3 linked regions of the Homo sapiens genome follow. The protein of the gene in region 2 interacts with the protein of the main gene of each other region in a pairwise test. Each region holds a gene or a part of one and is shown on either strand. Other genes may lie near its edges. The genes, in order: MECOM, VPS39 and PLEKHM1.

Evidence for each region.
Region 1: the proteins of VPS39 (region 2) and MECOM interact in a two-hybrid assay, tested with the Homo sapiens proteins (one study listed by BioGRID).
Region 3: the proteins of VPS39 (region 2) and PLEKHM1 interact in binary tests that used the Homo sapiens proteins (3 or more experiments, as listed by UniProt).

What each region holds. Positions count from the first base shown.
Region 1 is NC_000003.12:169,082,959-169,086,783, forward strand, and holds the end of MECOM (histone-lysine N-methyltransferase MECOM), read right to left. Parts: intron 2,086-3,825; coding exon 1,951-2,085; 3' UTR 549-1,950; downstream 1-548.
Region 2 is NC_000015.10:42,184,214-42,191,332, reverse strand, and holds part of VPS39 (vam6/Vps39-like protein), read left to right. Parts: intron 1-165; coding exon 166-208; intron 209-2,124; coding exon 2,125-2,219; intron 2,220-3,476; coding exon 3,477-3,575; intron 3,576-3,969; coding exon 3,970-4,062; intron 4,063-6,632; coding exon 6,633-6,816; intron 6,817-7,119. UniProt on the Homo sapiens protein: Regulator of TGF-beta/activin signaling, inhibiting SMAD3- and activating SMAD2-dependent transcription.
Region 3 is NC_000017.11:45,487,676-45,495,756, forward strand, and holds the start of PLEKHM1 (pleckstrin homology domain-containing family M member 1), read right to left. Parts: upstream 3,047-8,081; 5' UTR 2,977-3,046; exon of another isoform or gene 1,562-2,976; intron 188-1,561; exon of another isoform or gene 107-187; coding exon of another isoform or gene 53-106; intron 1-52. UniProt on the Homo sapiens protein: Acts as a multivalent adapter protein that regulates Rab7-dependent and HOPS complex-dependent fusion events in the endolysosomal system and couples autophagic and the endocytic trafficking pathways.

The sequences.
Region 1 (3,825 bases), on a different chromosome or scaffold from region 2:
TTGAAGAATTTGTAGCACTATGCAGTGTAATTTTTTTTTCTTTTGACACAAGCAAAGAAAGAAAAAATAAATCTTGTTTACACGCAGTTATAACAATGAAAAAAGGATATTTTGCATGTGGACAAAAAATTAAAAGGAGCATAGAAAAGTCAAAGGTTTCCCCCCTTTGTGAATCAGTTAACACTACTCGTATAATGAAAAACAAAAATAAGAAACTGAGTTCCTTTTGGCATACAATCCGTAGAAAACCTGTAAGTCGCTCTTTGTCCTAATTTAAGTGGATGCTGTGAACGTGAAGTGATACCAGGACTGGGTTGTGGTGCACTTGAGCCCTGACTGCACCACATGGGGAAAGTACAGAACAATAAGCGAGACTCATTGTTGCCCAAGAACTATCATTTATGCTATCTCAAAACAAAACAAACATACTCTACATTCCACATATCTGTAGGGCATCAAGATCTCAGCATCATATCTTTAAATCATTGGATCCCAAAGGGAAAGTAAAATTGCATGAAGGAAAAATACCACACAGTGGGGAAAAATACTCCTTTTTGTAAGTCTTTATTTTTTAGTTGCTCCTCCCATAGTAATGCACTGAAAGGCATAACAGTTTATATTGTACAAAGCATTTGAAGAAAGTACCTCAACTTGCTGATTATTTCAAAATGAGATTACAAACAAAAAGAAAACAAATCTGGTTCCTCAATAAAGGGCAAAATAACTGAATACAGTCTGTTATTTACTTCTCTCTTTTAACATAAGGTTGGGAACACTTCATTTTACAAATAGGATTAACATGAACATAACATCGCACAAGCTTGCAGACAACCAGCATAAAATATGGAGTACAGTTTTTAATCAGAAGAATCATGCTTCCATGAAAGAAATTATAATCGTTTATACAATTGAATCGATTTCAGTATTACAAAAACTAAGTTGCATCTATTCGTATTTAGTTCATTAAGAAGGAAAACAAAACAAACAAACAAAAAGGAATGTTAAGAAAAGCCAAACACCATTTGGCACTCTCATACACAGGTCGGGTCACCTTGGTCCTTGAAATTCGGAAAGGGGTGTGCCTCAGACGTCATAAAGTAGTGGCTGACTGGAACAGTGCTATTTTAATCAACAAACAATAGTTTGCCAACAAATAAATACATGATACACGCAACACACACAAAAAAATAAACATTAAAAACAGTGACATGATTGTCTAAAATTAAGATGTTATTACAAGGATTTGGCAAACAATTTATTAGTGGTACAGCGGTACTGGTGATGAATAGGTTACTTCACTGACTTAACCTCTTTGAGTGTTAACATCCATAGTTTACAATATACACATACCCTTTTTCCCTAGTTTTAAACAATGTACTTAAGAAGGCAAAAGGGGGAACAAGTACTCCCTGTTATCAGTTTCTATAATAATTGACTGTGCATTTCATCCAACTACTTCTGTCTTCAAAGGGTTAAATTACATAAAACTTTAACGAAGAAAAAAATTAAATCTGTAATTAAAAGCAACTGTTCCCAATCATGTCAGGTGATCTTGTACAAAAGAGAATTCAGTTTCTATGGAGTGTTCATTCATATCAATGCTGCCATCTCAACTGCCCTTCTCACCCACCCATACCCTAAGGTGGGGTAAACTGGAAGATGCCTTCAGCCCACCAAGTTTTTTGTTTTCACTGAATCACTTTAAGTCGCATTGATTGATCTTCCAGAAGTCAGCAGCTGCCTTTGCTGTGCAAAACAAAATATCGAGAATAAATAGTTTCTTTTTTCTTTCTTTTCTTTTTTAAATCATTCAGTTTAAGGTCACTAGACTTTAGATGAGTGACCCTGCAGGTTTATAAGGCATTCTGCTCAGCAGTCTTGTAAATAGTCCTATATGAAAGAGCCATGCTACTGTTGGACTTGGTCCCACTCTGGTCAACCTTGATAACGTCATACGTGGCTTATGGACTGGATAGCACTGGATTCCGCCGCAGCCCTGGCCATACTGTGCCACACGTTGGAAGAACTGTGGGATGTAGAATGGAGGGACTCCTTGTCAGACAGTGACAGCATCATAGCATATGCCTGGGGTAAAAAGGAGAGAGACTCAGTAAATGGCATTTGAAAAACATCACTTTTAGTTCAAAGAATATTGTTGGTAAATGGAAAGGGATGGGACCCTGAGTAGGGGCATCCTTCATGGGTGTGTTTGGCAAAGAAGGCATATTTTTTGTAGAAACCACATGGGATTACTGCTGGCCTTTAGTGCCTAGGGGCCCCAAAAGTGACACACGCTACAGAACCAAAAAGAACTATCCTACCTAAAATGCAAATAGTGCTTCCATTGAGAAAAATGAGTCAGTCTCCTGTTCAACTATAAATACAGTCATCCATCCACTACATATGTTCAATTCACCAAAAATATTATTGTGTGCTTATGACTGAAACCTCAAATATTAATAAGATATAGACCTACCTTGACAGAGCTGTGGCCTAGTAGAGGATACAGCCTGACTCCTACACTTTATAACCGAAAGCACTGAAGGTGCTTGAGTGACTTGCCCAAAGTCACTCAATTAGATAGATAGTGGGAGAAGCATAACTAAAATGTATTTCTGCCCAACTTTTAATCCATTGTCTTTTCTCCAATTTCCCTCCATGCTTGACATACTCAGTCCTGGCACCCATAAGTTGAGGTGGATCAAATCAGCTCTACCAAAAAAATAAAACCAAACACAAGACCCAACAGTGTTCTAATCAACTTGTTTTCCAGTGTCTGCTGAGCAGAAGGTGCATGGAGGTGCTCTGTGAGGAAGTACTCTTTCTTCCCTATTATCATGTCAAATTTTAAATAACTGTTCAGAGAGTCCCCTATTTACTGCCAAGCAAAATATTCAAATGAAATGTTTGGTCTTGACTTGTAAGTGAACTTTTCACTGTTGATTTGCTATTGTTGGTCTCATCCATTGCTAAACTTGCTTGTCAAAATGCTGCTGAAGTGGAATCATTAAAGTCCTGCCAAAGACATTCCACTGTCTGTAAACAAAGACAAAATGCCTCTGTTGTTAGGCAGAATTTCATCTCTGGGAGTCATGCTGAGACATGTGGCCAGTCTGTGGTTTCTTCCGTAATCATTGCATTTAGTTAGAAAATTTACCCTTGTAGGCTGATTTTTGATTTGCTGGGTCATCGCTCTAAATGTACACATTTGACTTTTATGTATGCAATTTGCCTTTTGGACTTCTACAATATCTCATGATCCATTTAACAAATATTTCTTAAGCATCTACTCTATGCCAGGCTCTGTGATAGATCCTAAGAAATTAAGAATAAATAATATAGAGTACTTATCTTTGGCAGAGTTTAAAGTATGGGTTAAGTGAGCATTCAACCTAAATTATCTATTCTGATTATGTACCTACTTTTAGAGAACAAGATAAAGAGTACTCTGAAAGAGTTAAAACAAATTCTGATATTTGGGAAGATAAAAAGGAGTACAAAGAAAATTTTGGAATTTAAATTTTAATCCTGCCTTTAAACCTGCCTCTACTCACCTAGCTGTGTGATCTTGAGCAAGTTGCTTAACCTTTTAAGCTTTACTTTCCTCCTATAAAACAGATGATAGTAATAACAGTATTGGCCTCCAAGAGTTGTGGAGGAATCACATGCACTAACTTACATAAAGTGTTTAGCTCAGTGTGCCTGACTGAGGTAATACATAAATAGTACCTATTACCATGAAATTAATTTTTACCGGATAGAGTTTCTTGAGGGAGAGCACATGCAAAATGCAGCTACTATTGTACTGGTCAACTATTTTCAATT
Region 2 (7,119 bases):
ACAAGCAGAAATGATAATCACAGAAATTATAGTGCCCAGAAAAATCAGTGAGATCCCTGTAACTGGATAGGCTCCGTGGTCCCTTTTTATTACTGTTATTGAATGAACATTTGCTAAACCTTGTCAGAAATGTTTAATTGGGTCTCATGATTTCCTATTTTCCAGATCCATGTGGTTTCCCAGTTTAAGATTCTGGTCAGCTTGTTAGGTAAGAAAAGGAGTTGCATTTGTATCCTGTGTCTAACAAGAAAAGATATGACCTAATTAATCCTTTCATGGTTAATTTGATAGTGGTTACTTAACAATGAACTGACGTGTTCCAAACCTGGTATAACAGGGTACATGGTTAATAAAGGCAGCAGCATCCTCCATAGACTCGAACTCTTCTCTCCAAGGAGTCTCACTTTATTCATTCATTCGTTCATTGATCAAATATTTATTGAGCCTATTCTATGCAAAGTCTGGACTAGACATTCGGGATACCAAGTTCAGTGAGACATAGTTGCTATCTTTGAGACTTACATTCTGATTATGAAGACTAAATGACAGGAAGTAATCACGATACAATGTGGTAAGTTACAGTGAAAATTTATAAAAAGTGTTGTGGAATCTTGGTAATGGGAGGGACTATATTGTCTAGTAGATAACTAGACTTTCAGTAGGAAAAGAGGCCAGCAGCGTATCACAAACACAGGGAACAACTAGAACAAAGGCCTTGAGATGTGGCAGTTTGTGGCAAATTGTTTATTGTGGCCAGACTAAGGATATGTGGTGGAGATTGGCAGGATATCAGGTAAGAGACAGAGCAGGGCTACACTGTTGAGGCCCTCATGTGAAAAACCATGGTTTCATAGAAAGCAGCCAGTGAGGCCTTTTCTGGACATGCAGGGGACTAGCAGCTGATCTCACACTTTGCGCTGTTGACCCTGGGGCCCAAAGAGTAAAATCATGTTAAATGTTGTTCCTGGGTCCACAGATAAACATCTGAGGTAACTTAATCTTCATGACTAAAACTAGATATGAGGCCCAGGTAAAATGATTATTTTGATTGCTTTGCTAGGAAAGAAATCATTGCCATGGGTTAGTACAAAATGCACAGGGGATTTCCCTTTTCTAATTGGAGCCTCCTAATGTGAGTAGCTTTGAAAGCCATTTCTTGTATAAATACTGCATCATAATATTTCAGACTTGAAATGGACAGAGTATAAGAGTGCTTTGGACTGGGTGCAGTGGCTCACACCAGTAATCCCAGCACTTTGGGAGGCTAAGGCAGGAGGATTGCTTGAGTCCAGGAGTTTGAGACCAGCCTGGGCAACACAGGGAGACCTCATCTCCACAAAAAATAAACAAAATTAGCCAGGTGTGGTGGTGCATGCCTGTAGTCCTAGCTACTCAGGAGGCTGAGGTAGGAGGATCACTTGAGTCTCAAGGAGGTTAAGGCTGTAGTGAGCTGAGATCATGCCCCTTTTGTTGATGCACTCTAGCCTGGGCAACAGAGTGAGACCGTGCCTCAAAAAAAAAAAAAAAAAAAAAAAAAAGAGTGTTTTGGAAGTGAAAGATCTCTTTTACTCAAGTCAGCCCCAATTTTTTTTTTTTTTTTTTTTGAGACGGAGTCTCACTCTGTCGCCCAGGCTGGAGTGTAGTGGTGCAGCCCTGGCTCACTGCAACTTCTGACCTCCTGGGTCAAGGGATTCTCCTGCTTCAACCCCCTGAGTAGCTGGGATTACAGGCACCCACCACCATACCCAGCTGATTTTTGTATTTTTAGTAGAGACAGGGTTTCACTGTGTTACCCAGGCTGGTCTCAAACTCTTGACCTCAAGTGATCTGCCTGTCTCAGCCTCCCAAAGTGCTGGGATGACAGGTGTGAGCCACCATGCCGGGCCAAGCTCAAATGTTTAAGGAAGAAAATATCCAAGTTTAGAAGACCAAGTGACCTCTTAAATGCTTTGTACTGGTTATAGGTGAGAATGAATCATCCTAGTGAAACTGAAGGGACATCTTCAACCAACATCTGCCATTTGCTTCTTCTAGATGTTAACACAGTTACTTTTTTTGCCTCGATAGTGGCTATGCTAGAGAATTATGATCATTGATCCTGATGTTATACCTCCTCCCAAACAGAAAATAACATTTATGTCCATGACCTATTGACATTTCAACAAATCACTACGGTTTCAAAGGCAAAGGGAGCATCACTGTTTACTTGTGACCTCCAGGTAAGTTTACCCAAGATGAAATTTGGCTTTATGCTTTAATCAATACAGTCTTTCCTACATCATTCCTACCATTAGATGGGAAGAATGACACTGATGATCCATACCCAACAGAGACTCCAAAGATTATTTATTTATTTATTTTTTTCCTGAGATGGAGTCTTGTTCTGTCGCCCAGGCTAGAGTGTAGTGGCACGATCTCGGCTCACTGCAACCCCTGCCTCTCGGGCTCAAGTGATTCTCTTGCCTCAGCCTCCTGTGTAGCTGGGACTACAGGTGTGCACCACCACGTCCGGCTATTTTTTGTATTTTTTTAAATTAGAGATGGGGTTTCACCATGTTGGCCAGGCTAGTCTCGAACTCCTGACCTTAGGTGACCTTGGCCTCCCAAAGTGCTGGGATTACAGGCATGAGCCACTGCACCCGGCCCAAAGAGAATATTTAATTGTATTAGAGAAATTTCTCTGTTGGTGCATAGTGTGAAGTTGAAGCGTTTGCATTCCCTGTGCGTGGGTTAATGAGAATCTAATACTATTGGCAAGAGGCAGCTAACCGAGGACAAAAACTCTCGTCCTGGACAAACCATTGTTGGGAAAGCAAGACTGTAACAATATCATGAAGATAATTATAAGACATTAAATGGAGTCTTGTTCTAAACAGATCACTGAGGTCTTTGTCATTAGGGACTTTTCATTGTTCAGAAAAGATATCGCTCTTTATTTTTGCCAATTTATCATTCTTTTATTCTTCAGAATCTGCCTCACCCCTCTCTCTACTCAACTTACCATTTTTTAGCATTTATGTTCTACATTGACACTGCATCATTTTATGCTTAGGAATACTCTTTTCCTTGCTCTTTAAAGGCTTAAAAGTGGGCTTGATGTCACTGGCACATGGTCACCCTTAACCCAGCATGCATTGACAGCCAGGAGCAAGAAACATTTAAGAGCAAAAAGGAGGGAGGAGTTATATAGGGGAAGGACTGCCCCAGGATTTTCTCCTCTGAATTGTGAATGTCCATGTGATTTGCTGGTGCTGTGGTCTTTGGCTGGCAACCCTTCGGGAGGAAGTGTTCCTCAGTCACTTGTTTCTTAGCGCATCTTAGAGAATGGTGTTCTGCTCAGCTTTCCTGGCAGGATGACTGTGTTACAGGGAATTTTCAGAGTAGTAGCAATTTCAAGGTAGACAATCTCTAATTTAGTTATCACTCAGTTAGAGAGAGTCATTGTATTTTCATTTGCTCTGCATGTCTCCTCCCAGCACACAGAGACCGGTGAGGAGGTGTTACGGATGTGTGTGGCAGTAAAAAAGAAGCTGCAGCTCTATTTCTGGAAGGACAGGGAATTTCATGAATTGCAGGTAAGTCCACTGTTCCTTGGTCCATGGTTGGGTGGGAGCTGCTGCAGTGGCTCGGTTCTAGTGAAGTTCAGGACTCCAGTCTTGTCATTCTACGCAAATGAATACTCTGGTATGAAGTGCATGAGAGCTTGTTGATGCCTACTTGTAATATGATTCTACAGTGTTTTTATAGATTGGTTTATTTCAAAGTGGGTTTTCACCTTTTCCAAATGTACTTTGTCCAGTTCATGGACTTGTATTTTTATTAAGGGTAGTTTCCTGGCCTTGTGCCTGTAGAATTGTGCCCGATGAGGGTGAGGGTTGTTTTGCAGAATGGAGGTTGCAGAATAACAGGAAAGTCATGATTTTTTAAAAAAATATTTATTTCATTCAGATCCTTGCTCTCTTTTTTCAGGGGGACTTTAGTGTGCCAGATGTGCCCAAGTCCATGGCGTGGTGTGAAAATTCTATCTGTGTGGGTTTCAAGAGAGACTACTACCTAATAAGGGTAAAATCTTATTATTTTGCAAATATCATTAGTTTATCTTGGGGAAGATGATTATCTGCTCCAAACTCCAGGTCAAGCGACCACTTTAAGTAGAGCTTTTGGCATAACAGGATTTGTTATTTGTATGTGTAGTTATCATTCATGCTCAGCATTTTTCACAAATAGGATATCTTTGTAACTTAAGTCAGTCCAAGAGTCAACGCTCAGTTCTTTACGTAATGATGATCCACAGTGTGTATTTTACTATTGGGACAGATAATGAAGGCTGTTTGCCTCTGTCCAGTGGATCATCATGGACTGCTATCCTAAGGCTTCAGTGCTTAGGAATTTTAAACTAATTTTAGTATAAACTTAAGTATTTTTAAGACTTTGAGTTTCCTCTCCTGCCGTCAAATCTTTTTGTATGTTTGTACTAAAAGTGATTCTCACTATTTTTTTAAATTTCAAAAGCCACGTGTTTTTACACGTGTTTATTACAGAAAATATAGATAAGGAGATAAAGGAAGTGCAAATCAACCATAGTCCCCCCACTCAGAAATAGTCACTGCCAACTTCTTGGTATATGAACTTCCATCCTATTGGTAAAAATACTATGCTATACAATTGTTTTATGACCTGTGTTTTCTCTTAACGTAAGTTGTAAATATCCATGACGTTGTTTTTCTCCAATATGCATACTATATGTAGAAAAGATTGACACACTGTTCGTTTCATTGAATAATCTAAATCTCTTAGCTTCACACCCCTTGTAATTCAGACATGGCAATTCTAGAAGCCTCTCTCTCTACCTTCCACTGGGTGAGCTCTTCATTGGTTATTTTATTTTATTTGAGACAGGGTACCCCTCTGTCACCCAGGCGGGAGTGCAGTGGCAGGATCTTGGCTCACTGCAGCCTCCGTCTCCTGGGCTCAAGCAGTCCTCCCACCTCAGCCTCCCAGGTAGCCCAGATGCCTACCACCATGCTCAGCTAATTTTTGTATTTTTTTTTTTTTTGTATTTTTGTAGAGATGGGGTCACAATATGTTGCATAGGCTGGTCTTAAACTCCTGGGCTCAAGCAGCCCTCCTGCCTCAGCCTCCCAAAGTGCTGAGATTACAGCCACCATGCCTGGCCCCATTGTTATCTTGTTAATATATTTGTTCCATCTTTGTGTCATTTGAATATCCTGATTTTATCAGCATCAGAGTTGCAGACTCCTGGAGGAGTCACTGCTGTGCCACTGACTCAATAGCAAGTAGGCCTACAGATGGTGAGAGAGCGCACAAGGAATAAGGGAACTGAGCAAAAGCTGGACTTAAGGCTCTCAGTTCTCTGACTGCCTTGGATGCTGACATCACCTTCAGGGTGGGAAACCTTGCTTTAGGACCAGGCTATTCAGAAATTACTTATTTACATACAGTAAAATTTATTCTTTTTGGTGTACAGTTCTGTGTTTTGACAAATGCTTAGATTTATGTGACTAATGCCACAATCGAGATTCACAACACTACCATCACCCCCCAAAATTCCCTCATATTGAAGTCAGCCTCTCCTTCTGTTCCTAGACCTCTGGTAACCACTCATCTGTTCTTCATCTCCTATAGCTTTGCCTTTTCCAGAATGTCATATAAATTGAATGACACAATATGTAGGCTTTTGAGTCTGGCTTCTTTCACTTAGCAGAATGCACTGGAGATTTATCCATGTTGTTGTGTGTGTTAATAGTTTATTCTTTCTCATGGCTGAATAGTAGTCTATGGCAAGGTGTTTGTTTATCCATTCATCAGTTGATGGACAAAGTTGATTTTGGCCAGGCGCGGTGGCTCACACCTTTAATCCCAGCACTTTGGGAGGCCGTGGCGGGTGGATCACGAGGTCAGGAGATTGAGACCATCCTGGCTAACACGGTGAAACCCCATCTCTACTAAAAATACAAAAAAAAAAATTAGCCTGGCGTGGTGGCACACGCCTGTAGTTCCAGCTACTCAGGAGGCTGAGGCAGGAGGATTGTTTGAACCCAGGAGGCGGAGGTTGCAGTGAGCTGAGATTGTGCCACTGCACTCCAGCCTGGGCGACAGAGCAAGACTGTCTCCAAAAAAAAAAAAAAAAAAAGTTGTTTTCAATTTTTAGCAATTTTGAATAAGCATCTAAGACATTTGCATACAAGCGTTTGTGTAAACATACATTGGCATTCCTGGGCAAATGCCTGGGAATGGGATTGCTGGGGCATATGGTAAGTGTATCTTTAAGGGGCATATGGCAAGTGTATCTTAAACTTTGTAAGAAACCAACAAACAAAACAGCTGCACCATTTTGCATTCCCACCAGCAGTGAATGTGAGTTCTAGTTGCTCTGCATTCTTGCCAGCACCTGGCATTGTCAGTTGCCAGGCTAGATGCTTTCCTTTGCATTAGAGAACGGGTTTTACATTGTGATAACAACGGTTATTATAATAAACTCTGTAACATTTTCTTATGTCAAACAAGGAATATTATTGGCTTCTCTAGGTTTCGGGTTCTATCTGGATTTTTCCTGTGTTCTTACCTCTGGCTGGGGAATGCTAGGTGACTCACTCTGTTTCTTCCTATAGGTGGATGGAAAGGGGTCCATCAAAGAGCTCTTTCCAACAGGAAAACAGCTGGAGCCCTTAGTTGCACCTCTGGCAGATGGAAAAGTGGCTGTGGGCCAGGATGATCTCACCGTGGTACTCAATGAGGAAGGGATCTGCACACAGAAATGTGCCCTGAACTGGACGGACATACCAGTGGCCATGGGTGAGACCAACAGTAGCTGCTGTTTCCCACTTTGGGTTGAGGTTGTGTGCCATTCCTGCAGAACGGAGTCCCATTCGTAGCTTTAGCAGACTGGTTTACGTTGTGTCATTCACTTTCAGTTCCCCTTCTTATAAGTAGATGACATTTTAGGGTCATTAAAAATGGGATAGTCTAGTTCTTGCAAGAAGCTGAGTTTTACTCCAGAGGGGGAAAACATATAAACAGAAATGTTTATTTTAGGAAGTGATTATCTACTGCTATCTTTTACTTCTTAGTTTTTTTCTTCCTCCTTTTTTTAAGAGT
Region 3 (8,081 bases), on a different chromosome or scaffold from region 2:
TCCTCCAGAGATCAAGGAAGCAAAAAAAGAGAATGACTTGGATGAGACTTACGTTAAAAGAAGAAAGGGATAACCTGGTTCCACCACTCTCAAAACACTCCACCATCAGTGAACAGCAACCTCTTCTCTTGAGGGACTCCTCAGCCACTCCCCACGGCCTTCTCTCCACTGCCTGAATTGTGTAACTGGCTGTTCAGAGCCACAGCCTGGCTTTAAGCCATCCAACTGCTGTACCAATTGATGAGTCATGTTTTTTCAATTGGAAAAGAATGACAAAGTTATCCTCTGATTCAGAAAGGCAGCTGATCTTTCAGGCATGTGAGTGCTGACTGAGGAAACTGCACCTCTGTCCACCTGAGGAAAGCTGGATTTCTGTGATGGGTGGAGTGGTGGGGGTTGGAGCTTTGAAGCAATTAAATACCAGATGAAGGGTGAGAAACTTTTAGCTTGTGATTCCCAGACTCAGGGCTAGTGGATGAGGGCAGAATTGTGGAGTCAGTGAACACTAGCTATCTTTCTTTCCTCCCTCCTTCCTTCCATCCAGTATCACCCAGCTTTCCTGTATTCTTGTCCCATATCCCAGAGGATTCTAACAAGGACCAAACTCTGAATGAATGAAAACAGGACCGTTGCCTGACCCATTCACCATTGTATTTCTAGTACCTGGAACAGTGTTTGTCACACACTGGTGCTCAAAAAATAAGCTGTTGAATGAATTGATTAATAAAATAAAAACAAGGCACGGGGTAAGTACCTCCACTTCACACACTGTGGGAAGTTGGGGTATACAACTCTTAAGTGCTGGGGCAACTGTGGAGCTCCTGTCATTAAGCCAAGCTGCCAATAAGGCTGAAAACAACTTAAATATACTGCATATTAATGGGAGGACATTGAAGGTAAACAGCATTCACTTTTCAAAGGAATACGACTATAAGTGGCAAGCAGAGACAGTGTTCTTTGGGGCTCTTTAAAACTGCAATCAGCCAGGTGCGGCGGCTCACGCCCGTAATCCCAGCACTTTGGGAGGCCGAGGTGGGTGGATCACCTGAGGTCGGGAGTTGGAGACCAGCCTGATCAACACAGAGAAACCCCCATCTCTACTAAAAATACAAAACTAGCCGGGCATGGTGGTGTATGCCTGTAATCCCAGCTACTCGGGAGGCTGAGGCAGGAGAATCGCTTGAACCTGGGAGGCAGAGGTTGCGGTGAGCCGAGATCATGCCACTGCACTCCAGGCTGGGGAACAAGAGTAAACTCCGTCGAAAAAAAGAAAGAAAGAAAGAAAAAAGCTGCAATCAAATGGCCCACCCATCTGATGCCGGGTCCTCAGGATTCAGAGAAAATGTGTACCAAAAAGCCCCCAGGAAACTATAAATGCTGAGCATGGGACTTGGGTGCCTCTGGAATGTCCTTCTGCCTCAGCTACTCTGAGATAACATGGTTCCCTGTGTTCATGGAACCCAGATGGCCAAAAGTCAATGATCCAGCACTTAAAAGAAAAGAAAGCGATTCAAGAGCCTCTGTACCCACCTAGGCCTCAGCCTCCCCAGGACCTACTCACCTATACTCTTCACAACAGGTAACGTTGCCTCTGGCACCCATCATATCCCCTGAATTCAGCATCAGGACTGATCTGCCATCAGCTCTGGCAGGGAGAGGCCCTTACAAGTGCCAAGAAAAGGAACACGAACAATATTCTGTGACCACAGCCAACACCACACAGAACTTCCCAGAAGCTCTCCAGGGCGAGAACACCAACCAGAAGGAAGTGACAGCTTCCATCATTCTGTGCTAAGTGAGCTGAGTGAGTGGCCGTCTCTCACCTTCCAGATATTTGAATGATACCTACCATTCCAGCAGCCAGCACAAGTCATTTAATATGAATGCCAAAAACACAATCCCTGAGGACAGGTGCAGGAGACCAGATGCCAGGAAAAACCCCGGCCCCACCCAAGAGTTGGGGAGAGCCCACTGCTCCTCCACCCTTATTTACCACCTGAGCCCCTGCACCCGCCAATCATGCTGCTCAGTCTGTAACTGCGGGTCTGAGTGAGCACCTACATTTGGCTGTTGAGGGGCAGCTGGTGGAGTTGGCAGGCGACTCTGCACTAAGTTCTCAGGTTGAATGGGAGTTGGGTCGAGGGAAGCAATGGACGCAGAGTTGGGGTGAAGAGTTGCGGTGGGTCAGCGGGGGTGAAAGGACATGGAGATGTCATTTTTAACAAGATTGGGTGAGGGTGGTAGGAAAGGAGGCAGCAAGAGTTCGGGACAGTTTGGCAAAGACTTAGGGATGGGCTGTCCTCAGTACGGCAGGAGACGCAAAGGAAGGTATACAGTGGCTAGGAGACTAAGGACGAGAAGACACAGTTAAGACTTGGAATAAGGCTGAGATCGGAGTTATCCAGAAGAAAGCGGTGAGCTCAACAGGGCACCTACTTTGGGGGTGGGTCTTAGATGAGAGGGCGGAGGTAGAATGTTTGGGATGAGCAGATCTTGGGGAGCTAGACGGGGGATGGGGGTGACTGGGATAAGAAAGCTGAGCCAGAAAAGGGGAAACCTGAATGGTGGGTCTCGGGGAGGTAAGCGCGGAGCATCGGGATTACCAGAGGGGTGGGGAGAGAGGATGAGGTGTGTCAGGGCGGGGCGAAGGGACGTGGCCGAGATCGGTGTTGGAACTGGGGTAAAGTGGGGTCACGAGTGAAGCTGCATTTAAGCAAGACCGCTGGTGAGGGGATGCGGGCGCGGGCTGGGGGCTGGACAGACGGAGGGGACGGGGCCACAGCGGCGGTGCAGGGGGAAGGCTGGGTCGGAGAGGAGCGGGCGCGGGCTGGACAGGGCTGAGGGCCCTGAAGCCGGGCAGTCTCAGGGTAACCAGGGGCTGGGAATCGCGGAGGGAGCGGGAGGCCCACCGCCCGTTCGCGCCTCGGCCCTCCCACCACTCCGCCGCCCTCCTCGCATCTTGACCCCCTAACTCACCAAGCGGAGCGAGGAGCGAGGCGAGGGGCGCTCCCGGCCGCGGCAGCCCCTCAGCCTCCGAGCCGACGATGCGGTCTCTCGGCCACTGACAACAGGAAGCGGCGCCCCGGCCCCTGACGCCATCACGTTGGCTCGGCGCTCCGGCCCTGCCCCGGCCCGCGGTGCCAATCGCGCAGCCCGAAGGAGCCTTGGGGCGGGGCCAGCTGCTCCCGGAAGTCCCTGGGAGCTGAGCCCCGGGGCAGATGCGAGGTCTGGGAGGCTGGGGAACTGGGGGCGCCTGCAGGGCGCAGAGAGGCGAAGGCACCGGTGTCAGGGAGAACGCATCCGTTACCGCCCGCCTCCCGCAGGTCTGCGTCAAACTAGATCCTGGCTTCTGGGTTCCTGACCTCGTTTGGCCTCAGAACCATCTGTGCAACATTGGGGCTGTCACTTCGCCTCCCTCAGCTGAAGAGTTCCCACTTGTGAGTGGGACTAATAACGCCTGCCCTATCTTTGCCTCTCCGAGGGCAGCAGTGCAGCCCGTGGGGCGGAGCCCGGGCCCAAATTGGAGCCTCCGCCTTGCGCTTTCAGGATAAACATAGCTGTTTTGACCACACTTTATCCCAAGGGAACGCCTTGAGGTCCCCTTGGGCACTCTCCCGTGTGTAACTCGCCCATTAGCACCGCCTGGCTTGAAGCTTAGGGGTCTGGTTATTCTCTTCTAGCCCGTGTAGAGGATTTCTTTCTTCCTTTCTGCTTTTTTTTTGAGACAGGGTCTCACTCTGTCGCCCAGACTGGAGTGCTGTGGCACGATCACGGCTCACCACAGCTTTGACCTCACGGACTAAGTGGTTCTCCCACCTCAGCCTCCAAGCAGCTGGGACTACAGGCGTGCACCACCACGCCCAGCTAATTTTTTCTTTTTTCTTTTTTTTTTTTTTTTTGCGACGGAGTCTGGCTCTGTCGCCCAGGCTGGAGTGCAATGGCGCGATCTCGGCTCACTGCAAGCTCCGCCTCCTGGATTGACGCCATTCTCCTGCCTCAGCCTCCCGAGTAGCTGGGACTACAGGAGCCCGCCACCACGCCCGGCTAATTTTTTTATGTTTTTAGTAGAGATGGGGTTTCACCGTGTTAGCCAGGATGGTCTCGATCTCCTGACCTGGTGATCCACCCGCCTCGGCCTCCCAAAGTGCTGGGATCACAGGCGTGAGCCACCGCGCCCGGCCAATCTTTTCATTTTTAAAAAAATTTGTTTATTTTGTAGAGACAGGGGTCTCACTGTGTTACCTAACCTGGTCTCCAACTCCTGGCCTCAGGCGATCCTCCTGACTCGGCCTCCCAAAGTGCTGGGATTACAGGCATGAACCACCACACCTGGCCTGTATATCTTCTTTCTAACGCAAAAGTGACATTTCTCTTTCAGATGAACTCGGAACAAAATGTCATAAGTGGTGGCCACAGGTAGTGAAGAGCAGGGCAGGGAGTGTTGGCAGGGACCCATGCTCTGGACACTTTATACTTGCAGGCTTTGGTCAATTGGGAGCCTAGGGCCTGAGTGTGGATGAGGAGAGGTACTGCTACATGCCAGTCCTAAGTGGGCACAGGGGTTGGCTGGGGAACGGGCCAGTTCTTGGAAGCAAGCTTCACTGCCCTCGGCCTGGGCGTCCTGTGCTCTTTTGGCTTCTCTGGGTAGGAAGGTGTCCCTCTTATCTCTGCAAAGTTCAGAGTCCCACTGTCTGCTTTCAAGTATAAAACCAGCACTTGGGGGTATGACCCTGGACTGTATGAGGGCCGCCCTTTCAGTAATTCTCTCTCCAGGAGTGAGAACCTCCCCTTCTCAATTTTAGACTAGATGGGTCTGAGTGTGTTTACTGCAGTTAATGGTTGAGCAGGAAGATTAGAAATAAGGACATAGAGACAAACTATTCTCTCGGTGTTAAACTCATTTTAAACAAAGTGGAAAGTAAGGGATTTAGTAGGGAAATCCTTTCACCTTGGCAAAACGATAGTATACAACTGGCACAGCATAATCCTTGGTGGCTTGGCACAAGCATTCCCTGTCCCCCATCAAGCACATAATGTCCCTCAGTAATTCCACTGCATTTTTGTGCAGCGGCTGTGTGCTGGAGCTGTGGGGAACCCCTCGGTAATCTCTTGTCTGCTTTTTAGGAGCCCCTATCTCCTGGTCTTCTCTTACTTCCCAAGCTACCCTGCTTCTTTGAAAAGTCTTCAGGCTTGCCTACCTCTTCTCAGCTTGCTCTGCATGCCTTGGGGAAGCTGCATAAAGCATGGATCATGAAGGAGGGGGCGCAGAGGAGAGGGAAATGCATGTTTGCACAAATGGACCCTGAGCCCACCAGGCAGGCTCCAGATGGGGGGGAAAAAAAAAAAAAAAACCCTTACATTATCACGTGACTTGCGCAAGAAAAAAGGTACCTGCAAAGGGCCAAGGGACCAGAGAGGAGAACTTGAGAGGTATTCTGGAGGAGGCGACTTTTGATATGAGCTTTCTAGGTGAGTAAAGGGTATTGCAGCTGAAGGGACTGGCTGGTAAGTGGCCAGCACATAGGAATACAGGCTGAGCTCAGGGAAGGGTGCACCCAGAGGTGGGGAGGAAGGTGGGAAGTGAAAAAGGAGGCTGGGCACGGTGGGTCATGCCTGTAATCCCAGCACTTTGGGTGGCCGAAGCTGGTGGATCACTTGAGGTCAGGAGTTCGAGACCTGCCTGGCCAACATGGTGAAAGCCCATCTCTACTAAAAATACAAAAATTAGCCAGGTGTGGTGGTGTGTGTCTGTAGTCCCAGCTACTAAGGAGGCTGAGGTATGAGAATTGCTTGAACCCGGGAGGCGGAGATTGCAGTGAGCCAAGATAATGCCACTGCACTACAGCCTGGGCGACAGAGTGAGATCCTGTCTCAAAAAAAATTTTTTTTAAATAATAATAAAAATAAATAAAAATAAAAGGAAGTGAAAAAGGAAAGGGTAAGGGGAGAGGGCCAGAATGGAAGGGGAGCTGAAGACTGAGCAAGGCAAAGTTGGAGGCCAGTGCAGAAAGGGCTCAAACCATTTGCAAGGATGGTTCACATCCCACTGGTCTGTCAGCTTGGATTTAAAGCACTACCCAGCGTTATTCAAAGCCACACAGGAGAACTGTAGGCATCAGAATGCCCTGGGGACAGGTCCAAAATGCAGATTCCTAAGCCCCACACTAACCCTAAAGAGTCACTCTAGGATGAGGTCCAAGAATTTGGGCTTCACCCCACCTCTCCTGTCCCCTGCCCTCACCACTGAGGACCTAAAGGATAATGAAAGGGGGAAATCTGTGCCCTAAATAATCCCTTTTGGCAGTTACTTTCTGTTTTCAAAGTTCAAGTCTGTCCTCCGGGACTAACCTAGGAGATGAGGGATAAGGGAATTAACATTTATGGAAAATGGAAGAACATACATAGGCACCTGTGTTCACCTAATATTCCTTACCAGCCACCTGAAAGGTGGGTGCTGCCATTATCTCTATTGTATGGATGAGAAAATAGGCTTAAAAGAGGTTAAGTGGCCAGGTGCGGTGGCTCATGCCTGTAATCCCAGCACTTTGGGAGGCCGAGGTGGGTGGATCATGAGATCAAGAGATCCAGACCATCCTGGCCAACATGGTGAAACCCTGTCTCTACTAAAATACAAAGAATTAGCTGGGCGTGGTAGCACGCATCTGTAGTCCCAGCTACTTGGGAGGCTGAAGCAGGAGAATCGCTTGAACCCAGGAGGCAGAGGTTGCAGTGAACCGAGATCACGCCACTGCACTCCAGCCTGGTGACAGAGCGAGACTTCATCTCTTAAAAAAAAAAAAAAAAGAGGTTAAGTAACTTGCGGGGGGGCCACAGCCACAGAAGTAGTAAGTGCTAGAAGTAGGATTCTTACCTAGTTCTTTCTGATTCTAGTTTCAGCTTTGTTCAGTGGATTTTAGAGCCAGGGCTGTTTAGGTTTGAATCTCATCTCTATCCCATATTGTTTGCTGGGACTTCCTTAAAACAGTGTGGGGCCCAGGGCAACCCAATGAGTATGGGGCTAAGATAGCTGACAGCTGCCACCGAGTCAGCATTTTTCACAGGCCCGTTGAGATCGCACTGAAGACAGAAATTTCTAAATTGAATTTTATTGATGTTCAGGAAAGAGAAGTAAGTCACAACGCCCCTTCGCCCTCAGCCCCAAGCAGAGAGCCCAGAGTGTGTGACCTCAGGCAAGTGCCAAAACCTCTCTGAGCCTCAGTTCCTCATTGTAAATAGGGGCTAATGTCAGTTGATGTGAGGAGTAAATATCATGATATCCTGGCTGGGCACAGTGGCTCACGCCTGTAATCCCATAACTTTGGGAGGCTGAGGTGGGTGGATTACTTGAGGCCAGGAGTTCGAAACCAGCCTGGCCAACATGGTGAAACCCCATCTCTACCAAAGATACAAAAATTAGCCAGGCATGGTGGTTCATGCCTGTAGTCCCAGGTACTTGTGAGGCTGAGGCACAAGAATCGCTTGAACCTGGGAGGCTGAGGTTGCAGTGAGCTGAGATTGCGCCACTGCACTGCAGCCTACATGACAGAGTGAGACTCTGTTCCAAAACAACAACAACAAAAAAAAAAAAAAAAAAAGGAAAAGAAAAAAAGAAAAGAAAAAGATGATATCCTTAATGCAAGTTCTGGCCTGTAGTAAGTGCTCAAAGATGAACAGTTGTTACTATTCTAGTTGTGGCTAATTTTCACCCTGCCAATTGGGCAGGTCCTTGCCTTCCATTGCTCTTGTAAGCACTTGAATGAGAGCCTTTCTTGTCTGAACCCCAGATATATTCTTGCTTGGCATCTGATTGAAATAATAAAACTAGTGTTAATGCACCCTCCTCTCTGGACACTGTAATCACTGGTGTGCTCTTCAGTTCTGTTGTAGGAAGCGGTTTCTTTCCACTCTCTCTTTTTTAAAAAATTGATTAAAAAGTGTTGTTATACACACGGTTTACAATTCAATAAAATGAAACGGAATGGGGATGAAACATAACGAACAACAGCAGTTCATTGTCCCTATTGTTCCCACCCTTCTGGGGAGCAGGCTTTCAGCAGAATCTTCTGGTGCTTCTCCCCACA